3 linked regions of the Homo sapiens genome follow. The protein of the gene in region 3 purifies or fractionates together with the protein of the main gene of each other region. This does not show direct contact. Each region holds a gene or a part of one and is shown on either strand. Other genes may lie near its edges. The genes, in order: TPR, SIPA1 and PTPN4.

Evidence for each region.
Region 1: the proteins of PTPN4 (region 3) and TPR purify together in Homo sapiens (affinity purification with mass spectrometry; one large-scale study listed by BioGRID and IntAct). This does not show direct contact.
Region 2: the proteins of PTPN4 (region 3) and SIPA1 purify together in Homo sapiens (co-immunoprecipitation; one large-scale study listed by IntAct). This does not show direct contact.

Annotation. Positions count from the first base shown.
Region 1 is NC_000001.11:186,333,671-186,337,322, reverse strand, and holds part of TPR (nucleoprotein TPR), read left to right. Parts: intron 1-166; coding exon 167-310; intron 311-628; coding exon 629-827; intron 828-1,779; coding exon 1,780-1,985; intron 1,986-2,193; coding exon 2,194-2,255; intron 2,256-2,789; coding exon 2,790-2,998; intron 2,999-3,652.
Region 2 is NC_000011.10:65,644,534-65,648,185, forward strand, and holds part of SIPA1 (signal-induced proliferation-associated protein 1), read left to right. Parts: intron 1-421; coding exon 422-596; intron 597-1,320; coding exon 1,321-1,424; intron 1,425-1,687; coding exon 1,688-1,845; intron 1,846-1,922; coding exon 1,923-2,532; intron 2,533-2,850; coding exon 2,851-3,125; intron 3,126-3,652. UniProt on the Homo sapiens protein: GTPase activator for the nuclear Ras-related regulatory proteins Rap1 and Rap2 in vitro, converting them to the putatively inactive GDP-bound state. Affects cell cycle progression.
Region 3 is NC_000002.12:119,951,814-119,955,465, forward strand, and holds part of PTPN4 (tyrosine-protein phosphatase non-receptor type 4), read left to right. Parts: intron 1-159; coding exon 160-316; intron 317-3,343; coding exon 3,344-3,510; intron 3,511-3,652. UniProt on the Homo sapiens protein: Phosphatase that plays a role in immunity, learning, synaptic plasticity or cell homeostasis. Regulates neuronal cell homeostasis by protecting neurons against apoptosis.

The sequences.
Region 1 (3,652 bases), on a different chromosome or scaffold from region 3:
TTCCCCATTTTTGGAGATTACAGTTGTTTCATAGAAAATTCTGTTTTGAATACCTTCAGGGATAAAATTTCTTTGCAAAGCTGTGATTATTTTCTTAGACAAACTTGCAGAAATGGAATTACTGAATATAAATATGTGAGTGTATTATTACTGTTTGTTGTCTTAGGTTATGGAGACATCGGCTCAGTCCTCTGGAGACCATCAGGAGCAGCATGTTTCAGTCCAGGAAATGCAGGAACTCAAAGAAACGCTCAACCAAGCTGAAACAAAATCAAAATCACTTGAAAGTCAAGTAGAGAATCTGCAGAAGGTATGAGTGTGAGAACAGTCTGTTCCTAATTCTTTCCTGTTATACACCTAAAGAAATATGTGTTAACTACTGACACTTTGTCTTACCATGTGGGAATGGATACATTTTATTCTTTTTACTTTGAATGGCTCATGTATGTAAGTAGTACCCAATCATCTTCAAGTGTGCATTTAGTTGGTCTGACCACCATTTTTATACTTATACTTCCATTTAATCTTTTAAAAAGCAAATTAATAAGTTATACTTTAAGTTGCTACCACATACAGTTTATATTGAAATGATTGAATTCCATGGTGAATACTTTGTTTTCCTTTAAAGACATTATCTGAAAAAGAGACAGAAGCAAGAAATCTCCAGGAACAGACTGTGCAACTTCAGTCTGAACTTTCACGACTTCGTCAGGATCTTCAAGATAGAACCACACAGGAGGAGCAGCTCCGACAACAGATAACTGAAAAGGAAGAAAAAACCAGAAAGGCTATTGTAGCAGCAAAGTCAAAAATTGCACACTTAGCTGGTAAATATCTGTTTAAAGTTTGAACTTGGTAGTGAAAGTTGATTATGTGTTGCAGGCCTAAAACTAAATGGAATAGAAATAAAAGGTATCTACTTATGAAGGGTGTTTGTGTGTGTATGTGTGCTTTAAATATTAGGAATAATTAGTTGGACACAAAGAGCAATCCTAATTTTCAAGTGATGAGGATATCCTTGATATGATGAAATTTTTCTCAATTGTTGGCTGGCAGTAGATAATGGAATACTGCTATCCTTCTGCTTTCATGGATAACAATTCTATCTTGTGACAGAGATCCTTTGAGCCCAGACCGTGCTGTCTAGAAACCTTATGTAGACTGCATAAAGATCTTTACCAGCCCAGGGATTTTTTTGTGCCTCGTTTGGTGGAGGACCCCTCTAGCTTTTCAGGGAGAGTATCATGTCAAATTTATGAAGAACCTAGTTCTTCAAGGCTCAGGGCTTTATTCAGCCTTGCCTATCAGTCTGCTGAGTAGTTAAATAAAATGTCAAATCAGTTGGATTTTGTTACAGGCATTTTTTTAAAATGATCTCTAAGACAGTGTCCTAACAACTTACTTGATTTTAAAAGTTCTTGAATTATTTTTAAACAGTGCTGTAGATTATATGAAATAAAAATTTTGCAATTCATAGTAATGAATTGCATGATACATTGAAATATAAACGGGCTTCTGTTAACTAGGATCTTTAGCTTTTTGAGATTTTAGTTAGGAAAAAGTAAATTTTTATGTTGGAGTAAGTATATTTTATATTCTAGTAATAAGTTAAAGCATGAATGTACTTAGAACTTTGCTCATTGAGATGTATGATGTATCATAACTAATGTAGATGTTATAGTAGTAGAATCTGATGTGACCATGTGCCAATTAAGTGCATAAATGCTGTTTTAAATGTTTGATTATAATATTAATATAATCGCCTGGTTACTTCTTTAGGTGTAAAAGATCAGCTAACTAAAGAAAATGAGGAGCTTAAACAAAGGAATGGAGCCTTAGATCAGCAGAAAGATGAATTGGATGTTCGCATTACTGCGCTAAAGTCCCAATATGAAGGTCGAATTAGTCGCTTGGAAAGAGAACTCAGGGAGCATCAAGAGAGACACCTTGAGCAGAGAGATGAGCCTCAAGAACCTTCTAATAAGGTGATTAGCTAATTCTGCTTAAGTAACAAATTGTTTTTCTTTGTACATTTTACTTGAAAGTGCTTGGTGATATAGGAGCCTTTGTCAGTGAATTTTGGCTAAAATTCAATATATGCGGAGAGAATTAACAATAATGACAATTTTTTTGTGGCATTTTTAGTGGACTCTTGTGGGCTAGGAACAACAATCAAGAGCTTTCTCTTTATAGGTCCCTGAACAGCAGAGACAGATCACATTGAAAACAACTCCAGCTTCTGGTGAAAGAGGAATGTGAGTTTTAGTTATTTCATAGTCTGTTATTTTTCTTTTAAAGCTCAGGGAATATCTAGTGATCTTTCTGTTTAGGAAAAAGAAATCTGTGTATTCTATTGTAAAAACATACACTAAAGAGTTGTTTTCTCTGCAGAACTGTATCATGTATTTGCCAGCTTGTTTTCACCATACTTTCAGTCCTATCAGATGAAGCTTTGTGACAGAGAAAACGTCTCTCATCTTTTAGTTTACAGTTGGTTTCTAAGTTAGGCTGCTACTGATTTTCCCCGTGATGTTACATGATGACAGATAGAAAATGCTGGGCTGAGACTTGGGTTCAGCAATTCAACAGCTAGATACATTTTACATTGTCAGGATGCACCACTCTGGAGCATTCCCTGTGTAGTTTTTAATGCTTAAATTCAAAACAGCTTTAATAAGGCTCTGAAATATTTAGTGAACAAAAAAATGGAGACCTATACTCACTGTGTTTTTAAAAGTATTTGCATAATAATTTGTTATTAATTATTCTTCCATTTTCTCCTCTATAAGTGCCAGCACATCAGACCCACCAACAGCCAATATCAAGCCAACTCCTGTTGTGTCTACTCCAAGTAAAGTGACAGCTGCAGCTATGGCTGGAAATAAGTCAACACCCAGGGCTAGTATCCGCCCAATGGTTACACCTGCAACTGTTACAAATCCCACTACTACCCCAACAGCTACAGTGATGCCCACTACACAAGTGGAATCACAGGAAGGTTAGTAAAATAATACAGATCTGATGAGACTGCTTATTTAGATTTATTATGAGAAGATGACAGTAATTTCAAAGACAAATGAAGCATCCACTACAGCTGAAGTCACGTCATTGTAAAAATGGGTGTTTAATATTTGAAGGACATACTTCTAGGACCAAAATTTTCACTTGTAATGACAAAGAATATATGAAATCCACTTTGGAAAATCATACTGAATTACTGGCTCAATCCAACATTGCTTTCTCACTGAAACTGACCATTTCATTGCTTTCTTCAATTTTTTCCCATGACACTCTTGTTATTCATTACAGCAATTACAACTTTGTATTTTATTCTGTGGTATACATGCTTTTTACTCCACTACATTGAGCTCCTCAAGGGCAAAAATCTCAGCTTCTTATTGTTTAATCCCTTTACCTAACTCCACAGTAGGTGTTCAGTAAAACTTTGCTACCTGCATATTTCCTTAGATTCTTATCTTGACAAATGTTAGAATTCAGTAAATTATTCAAGTATTTCTGTGCTGTGAAAGTAGAGAATGTTTTATTTCAGCTACATCCAATAAACTAAATATATTACTAATCAAATTTACTATCTGTTATATCAATTAAAAACTAAATGATGCTTAATGAAAAATTCTAATTTTACTTTGAG
Region 2 (3,652 bases), on a different chromosome or scaffold from region 3:
GTTATCCAGTTATCCGCAGAGGGAAGAGCCGGGAAGAGGGCACAGAAATGGGAGCATGGGGGGCAGAGGTGGTGCCTGGCCTGCAGGGGCTGGGGTGGGGGTGCCTTGGATTCAGGGGTGCAGAGGACAGTCCAGCCTTGAGATAAGGAGGATGATAATGTGTATGTTTATTGGAAGGGTCCTTTCTGTGAATCACCTTCTCTACTGCCACATGGGAACCAGCCTCCTCCCATCCCTTCCTACCTGTGCACTCCCAAGCACGAGGAGCACAACAGACTGTACTCACCTGACAGGCAAGGGCACAAGTGGCTCAGAGAGGGCTGGTGCTCAGCCCCAGGCCAGCGTCCCATCCATTCCCTAAGAGCTGGTGGGGTGGGGCTGCAGGGGACTGAGACCTATGCCTTCTGTCTCCCACCCACAGCTGAGCTTCCAACGCAAGGTGGGCATCCTGTACTGCCGGGCGGGCCAGGGCTCGGAGGAGGAGATGTACAACAACCAGGAGGCGGGACCGGCCTTCATGCAGTTTCTCACCTTGCTGGGCGATGTGGTGCGGCTCAAAGGCTTTGAGAGTTACCGGGCCCAGCTAGACACCAAAAGTGAGGCCCAGGGGCAGGAGGGGTGGGAGCAGATCTGTGCTGAAGGGGTGAGCACAAATTGCCTTGTCACTCCTTTGTCCGTACAATCCTGGGGCTGGGGACTGGAGAGTTCTTTGGGTGAGCTAAGGATCTGAGTCAGGGCTATGAGGGCCAAGCTATGGGCTGAAAAGAGGGGCTGGGACTGTCCCTCAAGGCCCAAGTACCCTACTGCCTGAGCTGGGGCTAAAGTGGTTTGGGGGCACTACCCCTCCACCAAACACATTCCAGCAGCTCAGCCTCGTGGAAGAGAGGTGCCCCTACCTCCCTGGTGGAAGGGGCCCCAGGACCCCTGGGAGGTGTTGTACTGAGCACCCCCTGCCTGCTTTTCACTTTCCCAGCATGCCACACATGCTTGGGCCTGGAGTGACACCTGTCCTCCTAGGACACCTGACCCTGCCCTCCCTCTGAGACCACTTCTCATTTCTGTCTTCATTCTATTTCAACTCTCCCATCCTGACCCCCCTTCACTCTGGCATGGGGCTGGAGCCTGTGGAGGGAGAGGAGGAGGGGCACCCAGGGCTGAGGCCCTTGAATCTCGCTGGCTGGGCATTGGCTGGTGGCATGACTGGTTGTCCACCTGCTGTTTGGGGCACAGAGGCTCCTGTGTACAGGCAGGAATGGCAAGTTCAAGCCACTTAGATTCCCCTTGTTTTCTCCTTCTGTGTCCCTAACTTCCTGGCCACAGCGGATTCCACAGGCACGCACTCCCTCTACACCACATACCAGGACCACGAGATCATGTTCCACGTGTCCACGATGCTGCCTTACACCCCTAATAACCAGCAGCAGGTGTGAGGGGGACCAACGTGGGGGTGGGGCTTCCGGGAACCATGGAGGGCCCTGCATGGCCCATGACGTTTGAGCTTTGGCCGGAGCTCTGTTGGCCCCAACAGCCCGCCCCTCTGGTGGCCCCTTCCCAAAGACAGAAACACCCTAGGTCTTCACCAGGGGCAGTGGGGGAGCCATTGGTGCCTTGGCTTTCTCCTGCCTGAATGAGGAGGGGTTTGGGGCACAGAAGACCTCATCACGAGCCCCTACTATCCAACCCCTAGCTCCTCCGGAAGCGCCACATTGGCAACGACATTGTGACCATCGTGTTCCAGGAGCCTGGCAGCAAGCCCTTCTGCCCCACCACCATCCGCTCGCACTTCCAGCACGTGTTCCTAGTGGTGCGGGCACACACACCCTGCACGCCACACACCACCTACAGGTGGGCACCGGAGTGGTCCCAGGTCTCCCGTGGGCATGGAGTCCTGCCGCCCCTCACTAACGCCTCCCTCCCCGCAGGGTGGCCGTGAGCCGCACCCAGGACACCCCTGCCTTCGGGCCAGCTCTGCCTGCTGGCGGAGGCCCCTTCGCAGCCAACGCCGACTTCCGGGCCTTCCTGCTGGCCAAAGCGCTGAATGGTGAGCAGGCGGCCGGCCACGCGCGCCAGTTCCACGCCATGGCCACGCGCACCCGCCAGCAGTACCTGCAAGACCTGGCCACCAACGAGGTGACCACTACGTCGCTGGACTCGGCTTCACGCTTCGGCCTGCCCTCCCTGGGTGGGAGGCGCCGGGCGGCCCCTCGGGGCCCAGGCGCCGAGCTGCAGGCAGCGGGCTCACTGGTGTGGGGAGTGCGCGCGGCGCCCGGGGCGCGGGTCGCCGCCGGGGCTCAGGCGAGCGGCCCCGAAGGCATCGAGGTGCCCTGCCTGCTGGGCATCTCGGCCGAGGCTCTGGTGCTGGTGGCGCCGCGCGACGGCCGCGTAGTGTTCAATTGCGCCTGTCGCGACGTGCTGGCCTGGACCTTCTCCGAGCAGCAGCTGGACCTGTACCACGGCCGCGGGGAGGCGATCACGCTGCGCTTCGACGGGTCCCCCGGCCAAGCCGTGGGCGAGGTGGTGGCGCGCCTGCAGGTGAGCTGGAGTGGTAAACTGGGGCCCCTGCGCGCGGCGGGGCGGAGCCTGCTTTGGACCCCTCCCTCCCGCCGCCTTTGTCCCCTACTCCTGCGGAAGGGAAAGTCGAGGAGGGCAGAGCCAGCCCCGGGGCTTGGCAAGGCCGGAACTGGTGCCCTCGGGTAAGCGACTTCTGGTCTTCATCCCTCGGGCGGTGGCACACGCGGCCCTCGGGGACTGTGGAAAGTTCCGTGTGGCCTGGGACGCAGTCCAGGGGGCGGGCGCTGGGGCGGCCCCACCTCCCGGCAGCCCCGCCCACTCGTCCCGCCCCGTCCGCAGCTGGTGAGCCGTGGCTGCGAGACCCGCGAGCTGGCGCTGCCCCGCGACGGTCAAGGCCGCCTGGGCTTCGAGGTGGACGCCGAGGGATTCGTCACGCACGTGGAGCGCTTCACATTCGCCGAGACGGCGGGGCTGCGGCCCGGGGCGCGCCTCCTGCGCGTGTGCGGCCAGACTCTGCCCAGCCTCCGGCCCGAGGCCGCTGCCCAGCTCCTGCGCTCGGCGCCCAAGGTCTGCGTCACCGTCCTGCCCCCCGACGAGAGCGGCCGGCCCCGCAGGTCAGGGTGCCGGGGACGCGGGGAGGTGGGAGGGCCGGCAGTTGGCCACCGCGCAGTCTGCGCCTCCCGGGTCGCCATCAGCAGTTTCAGGAACCCAGTGTGGATACCTTTCCTTCTGGAAAGAATCTCCCGTCTCTTAGCCCGTCTGAGCCTGTCTCTTCCTGTCTCTGTCTCTCTCTCTTTCTCTGTCCTTCCTTCCTCTCTCTCTCCTCTCTCTTTTTTTTTTTTTTGAGACGAAGTATCCCTCTTGTTGCCCGGGCTGGAGTGCAATGGCGTGATTTCGGCTTACTGCAACATCCGCCTCCCAGGTTCAAGCAGTTCTCCTGCCTCAGCCTCCCTTGTAGCTGGGATTACAGGCATGCACCACCACGGCCGGTTAATTTTTTCTATTTTTAGTAGAGATGGGGTTTCACCAAGTTGGCCAGGCTGGTCTCGAACTCCTGACCTCAGGTGATCCACCTGCCTCGCCCTCCCAAAGTTCTGGGATTACAGGCGTGAGTCACCGCGCCCTGAACCTCTATCTTCAT
Region 3 (3,652 bases):
AAGCTAGATTTCTACATTTTTTAAATAGATAATAAATGAAAGATGCTTTTCTATATGTAGTTTAGTTCTCCTGCTATTGGGTCTATTAAAATAAATTCCTGTGCTCTACTTTCAGAAAGTTGCATGCCAATCTGAAACCTTATCTATATTATATTACAGGCTGACCTCTGTGTCCCTAGACTGAATGAAGGGGACCAAGTTGTACTGATCAATGGTCGGGACATTGCAGAACACACTCATGATCAGGTTGTGCTGTTTATTAAAGCTAGTTGTGAGAGACATTCTGGGGAACTCATGCTTCTAGTTCGACCTAATGGTGAGTACTCTATGTAGTACCAGATAATTTATAGTAATTTATTACTGTTCATTACTGAGCACAGCAGCCAGATTTCTGACATAAAACATAAGTCACCTAAGTTTCCTGCTCAAAGCACAGTGGCTTTCATTGACACGTGGAGCAGAATTCAAGTTCTTTGCCCCCCCACCCCTTGCTCCCACTCAGCCTTGCTTACTTTCCTCTATTCTACACTAGCTTTCTTGCAGTTACTCAGATCTTCCAATCTAATCGACTTATTAGGGTTTTTATCCTTGCTGTTCCCTGTGCTGACATACTCTTTTTGATTTTGTTATGACTTATACCTATACTTCATTCAGGTCTCTGCTCAGATATCATCTTCAGAAGGGCTTTCTCTCCTGACTACCATAGCTAAAATGGTCTCCCATTTCCCCTAAATGGTAATAGTTGTAGTACTAGTACTCAATAAATACTAGTTGAATGAATGAGTAAATTTGAACTCTGTTCCACTTTTAGAAAATGCCATAACAAGCTATAGTTAAAGTGTTTTTAAAATACTGCCTTTGTTTTCAGTATATGATGTCTACTTGCCTAATCATGTCATCTCCCAATCTGGACAGCTGACTTGTTAATTCATAGTCATAGAATTCCAGGTTTGGAGAAAACTTGAATGCCGTAAGCTCTAGCTCTTTGGCTAATTGCACGAATTTCCTCCACAACAACCTCAAGAACATTCTACCAATATAGATAGAGCACTTTGTGGCTCCTGAAACAGGTCATTCCATCTTTGGATAGCTCAAACTATAAATTGAACTAAAAGTCCATCTTTCTTCAGTCCTGCTCCTAAGTCTGTCACTCTGTGCTATGCATTATAAGTTTAACCCCCTTTCCTTCAGTTTTTTGACAATAGCTAATTTTACCAGAAACCCACCTCCCTTTCTCCAGTTTAAGAGTCCTAGAGTCTTCAGCCAGTGTTCATATGGCATTGTTTAGAGTTCCCTCAACACTTTATCAGTCTGCTCTAAGAAAAAAGTTTTATATGTCTAATATCCCAGGATTAGACATATTCTTCTGGTTTTGTTCTATACAATTTACTATTAATCATTATTTTAGCCACAGAATAATTATTGTTAATGCCATATTACCACTTGAATATGTACCATAGGAAAGTGAAATATCATTCGAATTCTACTTGTCACCACCACACCCAACCCTGCAAAATTTTGCAAGGATATTTCTTTTTTGTAAACAAAAAATAAAAAATCCTCTTTGTACCTCTTGTTCACAAATAGGCGTTTTCATTTTATCTTCTCCACTTTGTGTTCTTTTCCATTAATGGTCTAGAATTGGCTTTCTAGGAAGATTAAAAGGACTTCAACAGAACATTCTATTTTGACTTTTCAAGGAACTTGTTCATTTAGACTTGATACTTAGGTGAGTCATTAGGTGTTTTCTGTCACATACAGCTACTTAAATTTTAAACCAGGAATAACATTTTTTTCTGTATTTATTGTATTATATTTTCTCTTGATAATAGATCCTAAAGAACTCAATAATATTAGCTAATAGTTATTAAAAACTTTCTGTGCACCTAGGCTCTTTTGTATATTTTCATTTAATCCTCATAGACATCCAATGAGATTGATGAATTATCCCCATTCTAGAGCTGAAGATACTTTGACACCAAGACATTCAGTTACCTGCTCACAGATTCATGACGCCACAGAGCCAGAATATGAACAAAAATCCATATGATGGCAAAGACCCAGCCTTTTTACAATTCCAGATCTCATCCTTTTGCTTTATAGTATGAGAGGAACCCACCAGGGTCTACTTCTTGCAAAATATCTTTCTAAATTGTTTCATAGTCAAAATACGGAGCAGAACCTGCATCTGTTTTCAGTGTGGGTCTGTCTTTTCCATTCTTAAAGTTTCATATAATTAAAATTTAAAACTGTGTTTGCCAAGAATATATTTTTGTTTTTCTGATCTTTTCTCCTTTAATTCTTATTTCTTCTTAGGCAAAATGTTGTCATACCTTTTTGTCTTTTCATTCTTCATTTCAGAAATTTATTTTTCTAAAAAAATGTATAGATATTCAAGGAGGAACCAGATCTCTTAGGCAAGGGTAAAGAGGCCCCTACCTTGGCTCCATGTTTTAGAAGGCCCTGCTTTGGCTCTCTTTCTTCTCCCAGTGGAGTCATAATTTTATAGGACCAAAAGGACATGCCAAGCTGTAACCTCCCTTCCCTTTCTATACCACTTTTTTTCAAACCTCAGTTCTGGGTCCAGATAACCCTGAGCCTCTCCAGATCTTCATGGGTATTTTCCACACATCCGTTCTCTCAAGGTGGGTTCACATGGTGTGTGTATCCTAGCCCAGAAGGTGGCTAAGAGGCTACAGTTTGTGGAGGGACAGGTATAGATATATCTTGCATGTGGGCTGGGATCTTCACATGTATGTTTATAAGCCCCTATGTTAAAAAATGGGACTGAGAGTGGGTAACGGTAGAATACAGGCCTAGGATCTAGGGTCTGAATCTCCTCACATTACCATGACCATGAATTCTGGCCTAGAATTCTCATTTATAGTCTGGCCTCCCAGGTTGTTTTGTAGATACATCACAGAAAGAGGATGAAGCATATTTTGTTTAGCACTGTGTTCAAGTTTTTTGTAACTTCTCATAGTTAAACATATGGTATATAGGTCTCTATTTGTACTCTTGCCCTAGGTCCCCTACAAATTAAGAGCGGGTGTATTCACAGCTGCTTCTCAGCAGCTCTTCTTTCTTACTGTCTCTTCAAGTTATAGACATTTTCAGCAATGTAGCCAAGAACACTTCTTCCCTCCAAAGGTACAGCAAAGCCCCTCAACTCCACAACTAGTTTCTGTCCCCCCATAGTGACACCAGACTCAGATCTGGTGTAATTCTTCACAAATGAATTATTTTTTGAACAAAACATTATACAGTGTATCTGGTAAATTCCTATCGTGTGAATTCATTAAGATTTCCACGTTTTGGGGTTTGTTTGATTTTTTTTTTTTAGCTGTATATGATGTAGTGGAAGAAAAGCTAGAAAATGAGCCAGATTTCCAGTATATTCCTGAGAAAGCCCCACTAGATAGTGTGCATCAGGATGACCATTCCCTGCGGGAGTCAATGATCCAGCTAGCTGAGGGGCTTATCACTGGAACAGTCCTGACACAGTTTGATGTAAGTAATATCATTATATATTAAAAGCATTTTGCTGATATTTGCTAACTAGTTTCATAGTTTCTTAAGTGCCTAATCTGTGCATTATAATTTCTAAACTAAAATGATATTCTGAGAAATGTTTGACATAAAGAGTTCTAAA